Linked DNA regions of Homo sapiens. The protein of the gene in region 3 purifies or fractionates together with the protein of the main gene of each other region. This does not show direct contact. Each region holds a gene or a part of one and is shown on either strand. Other genes may lie near its edges. The genes, in order: CCZ1, DHX32, AFG2B and FMN2.

What was found.
Region 1: the proteins of AFG2B (region 3) and CCZ1 purify together in Homo sapiens (affinity purification with mass spectrometry; 2 studies listed by BioGRID and IntAct, with this or other methods). This does not show direct contact.
Region 2: the proteins of AFG2B (region 3) and DHX32 purify together in Homo sapiens (affinity purification with mass spectrometry; 2 studies listed by BioGRID and IntAct, with this or other methods). This does not show direct contact.
Region 4: the proteins of AFG2B (region 3) and FMN2 purify together in Homo sapiens (affinity purification with mass spectrometry; 2 studies listed by BioGRID and IntAct, with this or other methods). This does not show direct contact.

The regions. Positions count from the first base shown.
Region 1 is NC_000007.14:5,922,664-5,924,896, reverse strand, and holds part of CCZ1 (vacuolar fusion protein CCZ1 homolog), read right to left. Parts: intron 1,511-2,233; coding exon 1,352-1,510; intron 1,063-1,351; coding exon 935-1,062; intron 1-934. UniProt on the Homo sapiens protein: Acts in concert with MON1A, as a guanine exchange factor (GEF) for RAB7, promotes the exchange of GDP to GTP, converting it from an inactive GDP-bound form into an active GTP-bound form.
Region 2 is NC_000010.11:125,857,253-125,860,826, forward strand, and holds part of DHX32 (putative pre-mRNA-splicing factor ATP-dependent RNA helicase DHX32), read right to left. Parts: intron 2,724-3,574; coding exon 2,351-2,723; intron 1-2,350.
Region 3 is NC_000015.10:45,405,307-45,408,880, forward strand, and holds part of AFG2B (ATPase family gene 2 protein homolog B), read left to right. Parts: intron 1-13; coding exon 14-199; exon of another isoform or gene 200-206; intron 207-1,722; exon of another isoform or gene 1,723-1,917; intron 1,918-3,574. UniProt on the Homo sapiens protein: ATP-dependent chaperone part of the 55LCC heterohexameric ATPase complex which is chromatin-associated and promotes replisome proteostasis to maintain replication fork progression and genome stability.
Region 4 is NC_000001.11:240,098,343-240,101,916, forward strand, and holds part of FMN2 (formin-2), read left to right. Parts: intron 1-3,574. UniProt on the Homo sapiens protein: Actin-binding protein that is involved in actin cytoskeleton assembly and reorganization. Acts as an actin nucleation factor and promotes assembly of actin filaments together with SPIRE1 and SPIRE2.

The DNA.
Region 1 (2,233 bases), on a different chromosome or scaffold from region 3:
TGCGCACAATGACTAACACAGGTATTACTAATAAAGAGAAAAATGTAGTATGCCCAAGATACAAGGGGAAAAAAACGCTTACACTGAATTTCCACACAGTGTACACGTGGGGCATCTCCCAAGGGGGCAGCTCTGCCGAGGTGAGGTCCCCTCTCTCCAGGGCAGCCGAGCTATCAGCACCGCAGCTGCCGGGTCACCCCGTGCAGTGGGCAAGGCTGGCCGCTTTGGCGGGAAGGCAGGAGAAAATGTCTGCCTCCTTCTGCCTGTGTACAGAGGGATACTTGTAAACGGCTACGTGAACCCGGCAGCTTCTCCCTACAAAAGATATGTTTTTATCACAGGATATTAAAAAAGGACATTTTGGGCTGGGCAAGGTGGCTCACGCCTGTAATCCCAGCTCTTTGGGAGGCCAGAGGATCACTTGAGGCCTGGAGTTTGAGCCCAGCCTGTGCGACAGAGCAAGACTCTGTTTCAAAAAAAAAAAAAGAAATTAGCTGGGTCTGGTGACACATGCCTTGGTGATACATGCCTGTGGTCTCAGCTACTCTAGAGGCTGAGGTGGGAGGACTGCTTGATCCTAGGAGTTGGGGGCTGTGGTGAGCTATGATTGCACCACTGCACTCCAGCCTGTGTGACAAAGTGAGAACCTGTCTCCAAAAAAAGGGGGACATTTCTTAATATAAAGTCATTTTTTTTTTTTTTTTAGAATTGTAGAAAATAATTTTCTTTCTGCCATTGCCAAGTTTCCTGTGCTACAGGAAGGTCTTGTCATAGTTTTCCAAGGAACAGAAAATGGATCAAATGTGGAGCAGAGGCACCTGCTTAGAATCTCAACAGTCATGATTTGTTCTATTTACCTATTTTTTAACCATGTTTCTTAATGCAATGAAAAGACAACTTCTCAAATTCTCCTGAAATACCAAATCCTACTTACCATTTACTTCAATCAGGTTTGCATTTTTTTGATTCAAAATAACATAGAGCTCCCGCCGATCAGACTTCTTTCCAACAACCCAGTAATCACTCATGGCCTTCACAATGATCTCCTCATCTTCATCCACTCTGCAAGACGAGGGTCAAAATGCAATCGTTCGTTACTCATACGGCCAGACTGTGAGAATAAGCGTTCCAAACCAAGAACAGGAAATGGAACGGGCGCACGTGGCATTTAAAAGGCTCAGGGAGTGCCGCGCGAGGGAACCGGTGACTTCAGGGCTCCCGGGTCTGTTTGGAAGCGGCGCCCATGAAGGTGGTTCACGCTTGAACCCCATGGAAAGGGCTTGAAGGGATTTTCTGTGTCTTTTCTCGTCTTAGAAAGGGGACGCCTGATTGGAGAAGTGGCTGGAATCACCTGGTAAAGTCACTGTTGATGTCACCGAGAATCTTCATTAAATCCGGGTGCACGGAAGTGAGCGACACGCTGGGCGTTTTCCTCATGTGAACTGTGCTCTTCTCGGCGAGATTCATGTGGTTGAAGTAGATAAACTTAAACTGGGGTTCTTTCTCAGACCTGTGAAAACATGTCACGAAGACAGTAGCACTCGGGCCGGATACAACTAGATTCTTCTTTTAAAATTTTTTTGAGATGGAGTCTTACTGTCGCCCAGGCTGGAGTGCAGTGACACGATCTCGGCTCACTGCAACCTCCGCCTCCCTGGTTCAAGCGATTCTCCTGCCTCAGCCTCCTGAGTAGCTGGGATTACAGGCGCCCGCCACCACGCCCAGCTAATTTTTGTATTTTTAGTAGAGACGGGGTTTCACCATGTTGGCCAGGATGGTCTCGATCTCCTGACCTTGTGATCCACCCGCCTTGGCCTCCCAAAGTGCAGGGATTACAGGCGTGAGCCCCCGCGCCCGGCCCTGGCCCTCTTTTTCTAAACAAAGTTTCACGGGAACCTCGCCATTGCCACATGTTCATGTGTTGTCTGTCTGCTTTCCCACCAAAATGACAGTTGAGTAGTTTTAACACGTATCTACATACAGCCCGTGACATCTGAGATACTTATTATTGGGTCCTTTACCGTAAAAGTCTGCTGACCCCTGCTTGAGGAGAGTAACACCTCGTTCCTCCCACAGTGCGGGGAATGAGTGTCCCGTGGAAATTAACCTGCCTCATGAGGGAAGCCTACGACACTATGTAACGAAGCTTTCCCTCATATCATCCCCAGTGGACATCACTGTAAAACGCAGTCGCCTTTTCCACTGCAGTCTGATGAACATTTTAAATGGGATG
Region 2 (3,574 bases), on a different chromosome or scaffold from region 3:
TTAGGCAGTAGATGGGGTAAGGAAAACCAGATAACACCTGTGGAATCCAAGGCTGAAGCAGGAGAAAGAAACCTGGTGCCCAGGTAAAGTCTGCTGAAGCCAGCCCAATGTCAGTGGCTGGCTTGCTGCCCCACCCACAGGGCAGGTCGGCTGTTGAGCCCCTGAACAATGAGGAGCTCACCTTTAGAGGGTCCAGTGCTCCGCCTGGGTCACAGAGGCTCAGAATTACAAAATCCTCTGGTAGCTTTCATGGCACTCTCACTTTAAGACTGCAAGACTGATGGTTTCTTAATAGGAATGCCTTTCCAGCCTGCCTTCAGGGGAAATTACATACCTCTCCAAGTCCTGTGGCATTTACAGTTTCTACTACCAGCCTGGATAATGATGCATGTTCTAAAGTTGACAGTTCAAAAGTCACTCTACAATTAATTATAGTTTATATTAAACTTATAAGAATCATGTACTCTAAGACCATCTGCACCTCAGTTCTGTTATGAGCTTTATTTTCCAAGATCCAAAATCCATTTCCAAATCCATTTAGGAATTTTTGCTTACCCTGACTTGAAGGATTACACCCATCCTATCAGTCTTAATTGCATTTTTTTCTTGCAGAAATGTATATCCTGGTTTTTTTTTTTTAATTTTTCATTTTTTTTTTTTTTCTAGAGACAGGGTCTTGCTCTGTCACCCAGGCTGGAGTGCAGTGGTGCAATCATAGCTCACTGCAGCCTCAAACTCCTTAGTTCAAGCAATCCTCCCACCTCAGCTTCCTGAGTAGGTGGGACTACAGGCCTGAGCCACCATGCCTGGCTAATTTTTTAATTTTTTTGTTGAGATAGGGTCCTGCTATGTTGTCAAGGCTGGTCTCAACCTCCTGGCCTCACGTGATCCTCCCGCCTCAGCCTCCCAAAGTGCTGTCATTACAGGTGTGAGCCACAGTGCCCGGCCTACGTCCTGTTTTTCACCTGGCAATTCTGACTCTCAAATATATTAGATTTGCCATTCTTCCCTTCCTTAGGCTTCATCTGTTTACACTGAGAACCTCCAACTGTTTTCATAAATCCTATGTCTCCGTAATCATTTTATTATTTTCCTCAGGACTTTCTTGAATATCTTGAATCATGCAGGATGAGATGATAACAGAATAAATCACTGTAATAGGCAGATTTGCTATTCAAGAGAATGTATATCATATACATACAAAAAATGATAAATATGCAGTCATATTGAGGTTCTAGAAACAGATACATTTAAGAAAACTAAAGTTCCCAAAGCCAGAAGGAGCTGTCATCCTTTATGCTTTGAGTATAAAATAGAATAAATACTTCTGAAAGTGTTTCTGAAATATGTGGATGTTCAAGAAAAGGCTCTGACAGACAGCTGAGCCACTTATCTGTTCAGCTGTGGCTCAGCCTACATCAAATAATTTCCTTTTTGGTTTCTGTTTAATGAGTAGAACCACTACATATATGGGTCATGGTCTAAAAACTCATGCTTCTCCTCTCTGTGGGAGAAGACAGGGAAAAAAGGCCAGGCAATTAGTCTCCATGAAGAGAGGTCTAATTCTGGAGATCCTGGAGGCTTTTAGATTCAGCCAACAGAGTAGTGGGGAAAGAAATAGGGCCAGTGTAGCTGCAATTTAAAAAAAAAATGCAACCCCAAATGGTACCTTGGCTGTCTAAAAGCAGTAACAGAATGGAAATGATGCTTGATTGCACATTTCCAGTCATTCTTTTAAAGAGATGTTTTAAAGAAATCTGAGTTAAAGGTTTTTTTTTTTGTTTGTTTGTTTGTTTTTTTTTTTTTTTTTTAATCTTTTAAGAATGGAGCCCCAGTCCAGGGAGATGACCTTTTCGGGTGGGCTATATTTTCTGCCCATACTCCACTGACTATCACAGGACTGCTTGTGGGAAATGTTGTGTTACTTAACTCTATGGTGAGTGCTTAGGTAATAGTCCTGATCTCCAACAAACACACCTGCTCACAGGGAGGCAGTGGAGAATGTCAGGGGAGTCGGCATGCACCTACTGTACCAAGAGACAATTCACAGCAAGCATAAATAGAGCCAGCTGTGCCTTTGGGGCAGCCACTCTCTGGCCTGAGCCTGCTGGAGGGAAGTTGGCTCTGGAGATCATGTCTAGAGACTCCTCACCCATATTTTGTTTTCAGAACTGCATGTGATTTTAGAAACACTTCCTGTTCTCCTTTCAGCACAGGTTTTATTTAATGAGGTGTGATGAAACCAAATATTTAAACAGTTAATTAGCAAACTGAAACCTGTATGTTAGTTATTAAAAGCTTCCCAAATGAAATACCTTATTACTGTAAGGTTAGAGTATCACTTACTTACTTGTTCACAGGCCAGAAAGACTACAATGTCACCTTTCTCACCCGAGTGGTGAATTTCAAAGATAAGGCGTAAAATAGACTCAAAAGAATCCTTTTGAGCCTCACTAAGGTACACAACCTCCACAGGGTGTTTATTTTTCACTTCTATGACAGGCACGTTTCCATAATAAGAATTGAGTTTGCTGATCAGGTGAGGTGAGGAGTTAATTATGAGCTTCAGTTCTGGTCTTGCTAGTAAAACATCTTTAAGAAGTCCAAGTAACACATCAGTTGCAATGCTTCTTTCATGAATATCATCTAAGATGATGACCCCATAGCTACCCAAAAAAGGATTGGACATCATTTCTCTTTGCAGCATATCATCAGTACAATACCTATAAAGAAGAAACATTAAAGTTAGAATATTCTTATGCTAACTCATGCAAAAAACTTCCTAACAAGAAAAATGCCTTTCCTATATTCATTTCTCTAAATCAGTAACTCTAAATTTTTACTGGGGCCAAAATTCCTTTAAGTTGATACAATCTACAGAATTATAGCACAAAAAAACACAGATAAACAAGATTTATACCCAGTTTGTATATGTTCATGGACTGCCCCCTACAAAGACCATTCTGAACCCTAAGTTAAAGACCTCTGCCTAAATGTTTATTACAAATATTAATAAAAGCCTGCATCTAACTTTTGTTCTGAGCTTTATACATAAAAAGTAGTATCATAAAACACCCTGGTCAATTTTTCCTCTCGAATTCATCAATGAAAGAATTTTGAGTAAAATTATACACTTTTCAAGGAAAGGATACAAGAATAACCATCCTGGCTCAGGCTCATGGTCCTGCTAGCCCACTGTTAGGACAGACACTATTATTGGTGATTCACTGTGAGAGATGATATCATTAAGATGTCATCCAAATAATAAGCAAACAGAAGGATCTAAAAAGTAACCACCTATTTAAGGGCAGCATGAAAACTGGCTAGAATTCCTGGAGTGGGGAGAGGTCATTAGTGATTTTAATGGGCTTTTCCCATACTTCTTGGGATGATTTTTTAAAATTAAAATAACCACCTATTAGTCACTAAGCTTAATGAAAATAACTTTCTGACACTATTTACATATTTACCTGTATTACTGCTTGAAGAAACCAATCCCATTTTTTTTTTTTTTTTTTTTTGAGATAGAGTCTCGCTCTGTCGCCCAGGCTGGAGTGCAGTGGCGCAATCTCGG
Region 3 (3,574 bases):
GCTTTGCATATAGGTGGTCATTGGGACTCCCACACTTAAACAAAGAAAGGAAATTCTGCAAGTGATTACCTCGAAGATGCCCATCTCCAGTCATGTTGATTTGGGCCTTCTTGCAGAAATGACAGTTGGCTATGTTGGTGCCGACCTGACAGCACTCTGTAGGGAGGCTGCCATGCATGCCCTCCTTCATAGTGAGAAGGTAAGAAGTGTTAATTTATGAACATCTATGTTAATCTATTATTGTAACAGATTAATTTGGGGGTTAAAAAAAAGCGGTGAGTACATTTTCCTTAGAACATTTGATAGCTTCCACAGCTGTTGCTTATACATTTTACATCTCAACTCTATATAAATAGTATATGATTGAGGGTGGGGATAAAGGGCTGAGTCCTCTGGGTCTACTGAGTGAATTTGTTCCCTACTCTTATAGTAACTCCCTAGTGCTGAAGCCCAGAGCAGCCAAGAAATAGTGTGGCCCCAGAAGAATCAAAGAGTTTTTTTAATTTGAATTTTTTTATTTTGAGGCAATTTCAGACTTAGAAGTTACAAAAATAGTACAAAGAGTTTCCATATACCCTTCTCCTAGATTCTCCAAATGTAACATTTGCCACATTTGCTTTATCATTCTCTCTTCATGTGTATTTCCTTATATATATACATATATATAATGAAATATTTGAGCATATACTACATCCATGATGCCCCTTTACCCGCGAAAACGTAAGTGTATATTTCTGAAAAACAAGGACCTTAACCACAGTATGATGATCAAGCTGAGAAAATTAACGCAGACATAATACTTGTACTTAACCTAAATAGGCCTTAATCTAGAATCATACTTCAGGCTTTCTTCTATGAAAACATAACTTTTTAAGAGTCAGTTATTCTGTGGAATATTCGTCAGTTTGGGTTTGACTAATGTTTCTTCATGATTCAATTCAGGTTTTGCATTTTGGGCAGGAATATAATAGAAATGATCCTGTGTCTTTCTCATTGCATCTGTTAGGCAGCACATGATATGTTTCTGTTCTATCACTGGTGAAGTTAACTTTGATTTCTTGGTTAAGGTGGTGTCTGTGAGATTTCTCCATTGTCAAGATACCGTTTTTCCCTTTGTTATTAATAAGTATCTAGTGGGAGAAATAAGCTTTTCTAACCTAGGAGAAGATTGGGCACTTGGAATTGTATTTAAATTTGTCCTTGATCTGCAGGTCTGTAATTCATGACTATTTCCTAACAATATTTAAGATATTAGATTAAATATAATACTTTTCAACTTTGTTGGTTGTAAAATCCAGTATTTTGTATATAATAAATAGTCCTGAATCCTTAAACCCATTCAGGAAAAAACTGATTTCAGCAGGCTAAGGATTCTGAAACAGAGTTTTCAATCTCATTTGTAACATCAAAATTGTCTTTTCATCTTAAACTGCAAAAGAATGATTTATTATCCTAAATTTTGAAAAACCTTTTTACCTAAATAATTTATACCTTGCCTCACTTCCTTTCCTTTATTTCTACAGTTACACCGAAGGTGGGGAGGAGTTATGTGATCTTCTAGTTGATCTTTTAAGTCTTCATCTTGTAGGTTTAGACCAAAACTACTTGAAGTTTTAAAGTTCTGTGTGTAAAGATGTGAGAATAGATGTCTTTTGAGGGAGACAATAAGTAAGCAGGAGATGGGAAGGGAGATTTACATTCAGGATTTCCTCTGCTTTGAAGTTCCAGGTTTGACCATAAGCACCTCTCACTTAGGTGGACCAGTCAGCTGCTGTCGTCCCAGGGTGGAGCCCACTGCTACTTCAGGAGGGGCCTGCTCAGGTGTAGTTACCACAGGTGATGGCTGAGTTCAGAAACAACCCAGGGGAAGTGGAAGGAAGAAAGGCAAAAAGCATGAAGGGACAGACAACTGGGAAGGTACTGGCTCCATCTTTTATTCTTTCCCCCACCAGCTGAGGGGCTGCTGCTACCTCTCCCTGTACCAGGGCAGATAAGGGATACCTTACACTTTGTTAAACTTTTTGTGAAGTATTCCTATTAAAGGATTAGAACTGTAGTTTAACACTCAGACACACACAGAGGGGAAAGAATGTATAAGCCCAAAGAATCAAGTAAAATAATGTGTACACACATGATCTTGAACTATAAATGAGATTTTCAAATATTAGTTCGTGTTACCTAAAGATTAGTTAATATTTGGACATCAGACACCTAACATACTATCAGCCAGTTAAAAAGGCTTTTTTTTAAGTATATAATAGGGTTATTCATGAGAAATGAAGATAGAAAATTATAAAGAACTGCCTACCTGAAATCTCACTTTCCAGAGATGACAATTGTTAACACTTTTGGGAGAATACTTTACAGAATAGCTCTATACATACAGATTCACTTAACATCTGTTTACAAATAAGAAAAGACAGTTTGTTTTTGAAAACGGGAATTTGTGGACAACTAGATGTTTAGAATTGGATATAAGAGGGCAAATACTTTAATAAATACAGTACAGATATTTTTAATAAAATTTTCAGGACTTTTTAACTAACAAAAAAAAATGTGTTTCACTAGAATGATCAAGGAGAATGTAAAGAGTCTCCAAAATATAACCTGAGAGTGAAGACGACTTCTCTAGGCATAACATAAACCTTAATAGCCAAAAAAGAGATTATTTGCTGAGTTGACCATTTGGGGGTGGCAAAACAATACTATAAAGTAGTCAGACTAGGAAAAATACTTTTAGTCCAATTTCCTTGATAGGGAATGAACAAATCTTACAAATCAGTAAGAAAAGACCAACAGTCCAAGAGAAAATGGGTAATGGGGTATGAACAGGTAGTTGACAATAAAAGGAATGACAATAAACATGAAAGATGTTCAACCTTGATTTCTTCTAAAATTATTGTCTTTATTTTGAAATAATTAAAACTTATAGGAAAGTTGCAAGATAGTTACAAAGAACTTCCACTAAACCCTTTATCCAAATTCACCAATTTTTAACTTTTTGCCAAATAAGCTTTATCATTCTCTTTTGCTCTCCTTGCTCCCTCTCCTCTTCTCTTTCTCTCTCTCTCTGTCATCTCCATATATATGTATTTATATGCACATAGTATTTATTTATTTTGGACTATTTGAGAGAATGGGTTGCATATATCATGACACTTTATCCCTTAACATTTTAATGTCTATTTCCTAAGAACAGAAATGTTCCCATATGTCACCACAGTATGGTGATGTATAGTGTTGTGTCCTTAGAGCCTCACATGTAGAGGCACAGAGTGTACATTGGTTCCTCATTGGTGATGCTAACTTTTATCAACTAGTTCAGGCAGTGCGCAGTTTCTCCACTGTGGAACTGCTATTTTTCCCTTTGCCACTAATGAGAAATCTGTGGGGAGACACTTTGAGATATCCTGCTCCTCATCAAACTTTCAGGCTGGGCACAGTGGCTTACACCTGTAGTCCCAGCTGCTCAGGAGGCTGAGATAGAATGATCACTTGAGCCCAGGTGTTCGAGGCTCAATGAGCTGTTGCCTCAATGCCACTGCACTCCAGCCTGGGCAGCAGAGCAAGACCC
Region 4 (3,574 bases), on a different chromosome or scaffold from region 3:
CTATCTGCCTTGGCCTCCCCAAGTGCTAGGAGGCCTATCTTGATTTTTATATCAGTAGAGGGAAGAACCCACTCTAGGAGTACACATTTTCTCATACGGCTTGGTAAATTGCTACATTGGATTTTTTTAAGGCCAGGAGTAGTTTGATTTCCAGCAGAGCCCCTGACAGAGTATAGATGTCCAGTTAATGTCTGACGAATGAAGGTCAGAATCTGCCTGATACGTATAAAATGTCTTATTATAAAAGGAAAGGGGTTTATATGAATGCTATGCTTTCCCCTAAATACTGCCTTACTGGGTTCCATATATCAGAGAAGAATTTGGCGATGTAAGCGGGGACCAGAACACTGATCTTCAATCATTTTAGATGGGTCTGAAACATCCTTTCTCATGGTTTCTTTAGGCCTGTGGTTTGGATTGAAGTCAAGTGCACCAGTAGCTTCAGGGATGGGTTTTAATGACTGCTTTATGAGTTGAGGATGGGCCTAGTTTTAAGAGCTTTAGGCGTTTGGATATAAGCCATGCGTATTTGAAATGGAGCAGGTACTTTTAGTGCTTTTCCTTCTGATTCTTCTGAAAAGATACAGAAAATATACAGTTGGATGAAGGTAGCAGTAGTTATTCTAACTACGTTTATTCTAGGTATATTTGCAATCCTAGTTTTGCTGTTTAGCTAAGTGAGTCTCCAGTAATTTTTCCTCATATCTATGAAGGTAGAAGAATAATTTCAAATTAATACTATTAAGATGAAATGAAATAGCATACATAAAGCCCCTACAATTCTGCCTGGTACATGAGAGGCACTTAACTGGGGCTATTTGCTCTCCTGACTGGATTTATTATCTTAAAAAAAAAGTCATTGTTCAAAGTGATCAGAGCCAAATTTGTTAAAACAACCCTGAAATTGTATACAAAACTTAGCAGGATATGAACTGACCAGATACTAGTTGAGCCCCAGTTTTGTTTTGTTTTGTTTTTTTTTGCAAATTGTTTATGTATTATTTTTTCTTTTTTTTTTCTGGAATTGTAAGCATTTTGTCACTTATCAGATATTCTGTGGTGGGGGGTTGGATAAGAAAAGCATATGATGGGGTGTGGCTGTAAGATTTGGGGGAGGGTGCTGCTTTCCAAAGAAGGGGTGGGAAGAGGAGGCGGTAGCTGACACCCTCAGTGTTTCTGCTCTGCACAGCATCTGGCTGCAAACCCCTGACTTTGCAGCTTTACCTTCCCACGGTCTCCTTCATAAATGCTCTACTTTACACTGTTTTATGAACATGCATTTCATTTTCCCGACTTTGTGCCTTTGTCTTGCAGCTTTACCCTCTTGGAATACATGATTCGTCTCTTTTGCTTTAGCATTTGAAAAGTGCTGATTGAATTCCGTTTCCTCTTTGTATCTTTTCCAGCCAGACCTTACTGGCTGTCATCTCACTTTCTCTGTACTTTACTGTCTAGATCATATTATATATGCTTCTTGGATTTAGGGATTCTTCTGGTCTTCTTTCTTGCCACCCTCTGCCTTTCCTTCCTCCTTGCCTGTTCACCCGATTCCATCCATCCATCATCTCCTCTCCTACTAATCTGTCCACAGATATCTCTTCCGTGCCTTGCTCTGTGCCTGTCAATATGTGTAAAGCACCGACTGTACTGAGGTCTTGATGAATACTTGCTCATTCACCATTTTTGGCAGTGATATAGACAAGTTGAGTATCCAGGCTTCCTACTGGCAATTAAAACTAGTTGAATTGAAGCTGGAAAATTGCTAACCTTTCTGGGCAGTCAAAATTAATTATTTTCAATGAGGTGTGATTGAATCAATGATACTTTATAGAACTTATGTTGATAGAAGAATAGCTATTCTTGTTTCTGCAGGTTAATGTTAAAATAGTAATGACATTACAGCAACTGACCTTCCAAATATAAATGTTATTGTAATGAAAGAAGAGGTAAAGGGAATAGAGAAAATTGTATTCCTCTGTTCATTCCTGTTTTGTATTCTAAGTACTAACCTAATGCTAATAAAAGTTAGCATTAAGGAACCATTAGGAAGAAACAAAAATGTACTGCCTGTGACTTGATAGTTATTAGATATCATTTTAGTGACAGTAGAAACTTTCTAAGGCTTTTTTATCTTAAAATATATGGAAAATATGACCTCAGTCAGTTCGGAATGGTAGTAAAGCAAGGTAGTCATAACATCAAAATTCTAAGAATGAGTAACAATTATTTCTGGATGCTATAATAAGATGCTAACCACACTAGAGATTTATTATCCTTTTGATACCTACTGCTCCACTATGGGTGAGAAGGAGGGAAGAATTTATGTCTTCTTCCTTTGTAAAGATGTACTTGGAAGTGTTGATTGGATAGGAAAATTACTGCCTCTATTCTGTGATCCAGTCAGGCTCCAACCTACCAGGAACCCACTGGAAGCTTTATTATCTGTTACCCTAGAGCTGCAATGGACTGAAAACAGTCCTATTGTTTTCAGGAGGAATGGAATACTTTCTTGAGAAAATCAAGCCTATATTATGTTTCAAAATTATGCTTAAAAAGGCTTAGGCACTACTCAGTTGAGTCTTTTTTTGTACTTCATGCAGAAGGGTTCTTTGTTGTAGTACCTGGTGATAGAGTGGACACATACAGGAAGAAATTCTGTGTCATTTAAATGGTTGTTTTAGGTACGCAGGAGGGGAAAGAATGTGTTTCAGTAAGCTAGTGTCAGCACTATGGGAAGAGTGCAGGCTGAGAACAATCTATTTCCCTTTTCCGTTTTACCACCAGCTTCCTATTAGGGCACAAGGCAATCATTTCTTGCCTCTTGTTAATACCCTGGCTTCCCAGATTGGAAGAGTGAATGCAATCTTGCTGGGAAGCGTCTTCCTTCAAGTCAATTTCAGCACTGTGGTTCTATAGATATGGTGATTCCAGCAGGTACCTTTTCTCCCTAATAGGGATGCTCTGTGTATTTAGAGCTTTCCTTTATTGGTAGAGCTGAAGAAAATTCCTATGCCGGAAGACCCGTTTATACCACGGAGTAATTGATGGTGAGAGTGGTGATGTTTTGACTTTGATAGTTTTGATCAATTTTTGATTCATGCTGAAGGAGATTTGCATTGGTTAGACTGTCATTATCTGACAATAGGACCGTGTGTGTGTGTGTGTATGTGTGTGTGTGCCTGTGTGTCTGTGTTGTGTGTGTGTGTGTTTGAGACAGGGTCATGCTCTGCCACCCAAGCGGGAGCGCAGTGGTGTGCTCATGGCTCACTGCAGCCTCAAACTCCTGGTCCCAAGCAATCCTCCCACCTCAGCACCTCAGCTTCCAGAATAGCTGGGACCACAGGCGTGAGCCACTATGCCTGGCTAATTTTTTTTTTTTTTTTTTGGAGAGACAGGGTCTCACTATGTTACCCAGGCTGGTCTCGATAGGGCCTTGTGTTTTTGAACACTGATATAATGATTATGTATGATGGTTGATCGTGTGTTATGAAAATGTATGAAATGGAAAGCTATGTTATATAATGTATGGCTCGAAGATTTAGAATATATGAAGGCTTTCTAATATTGGCACAAA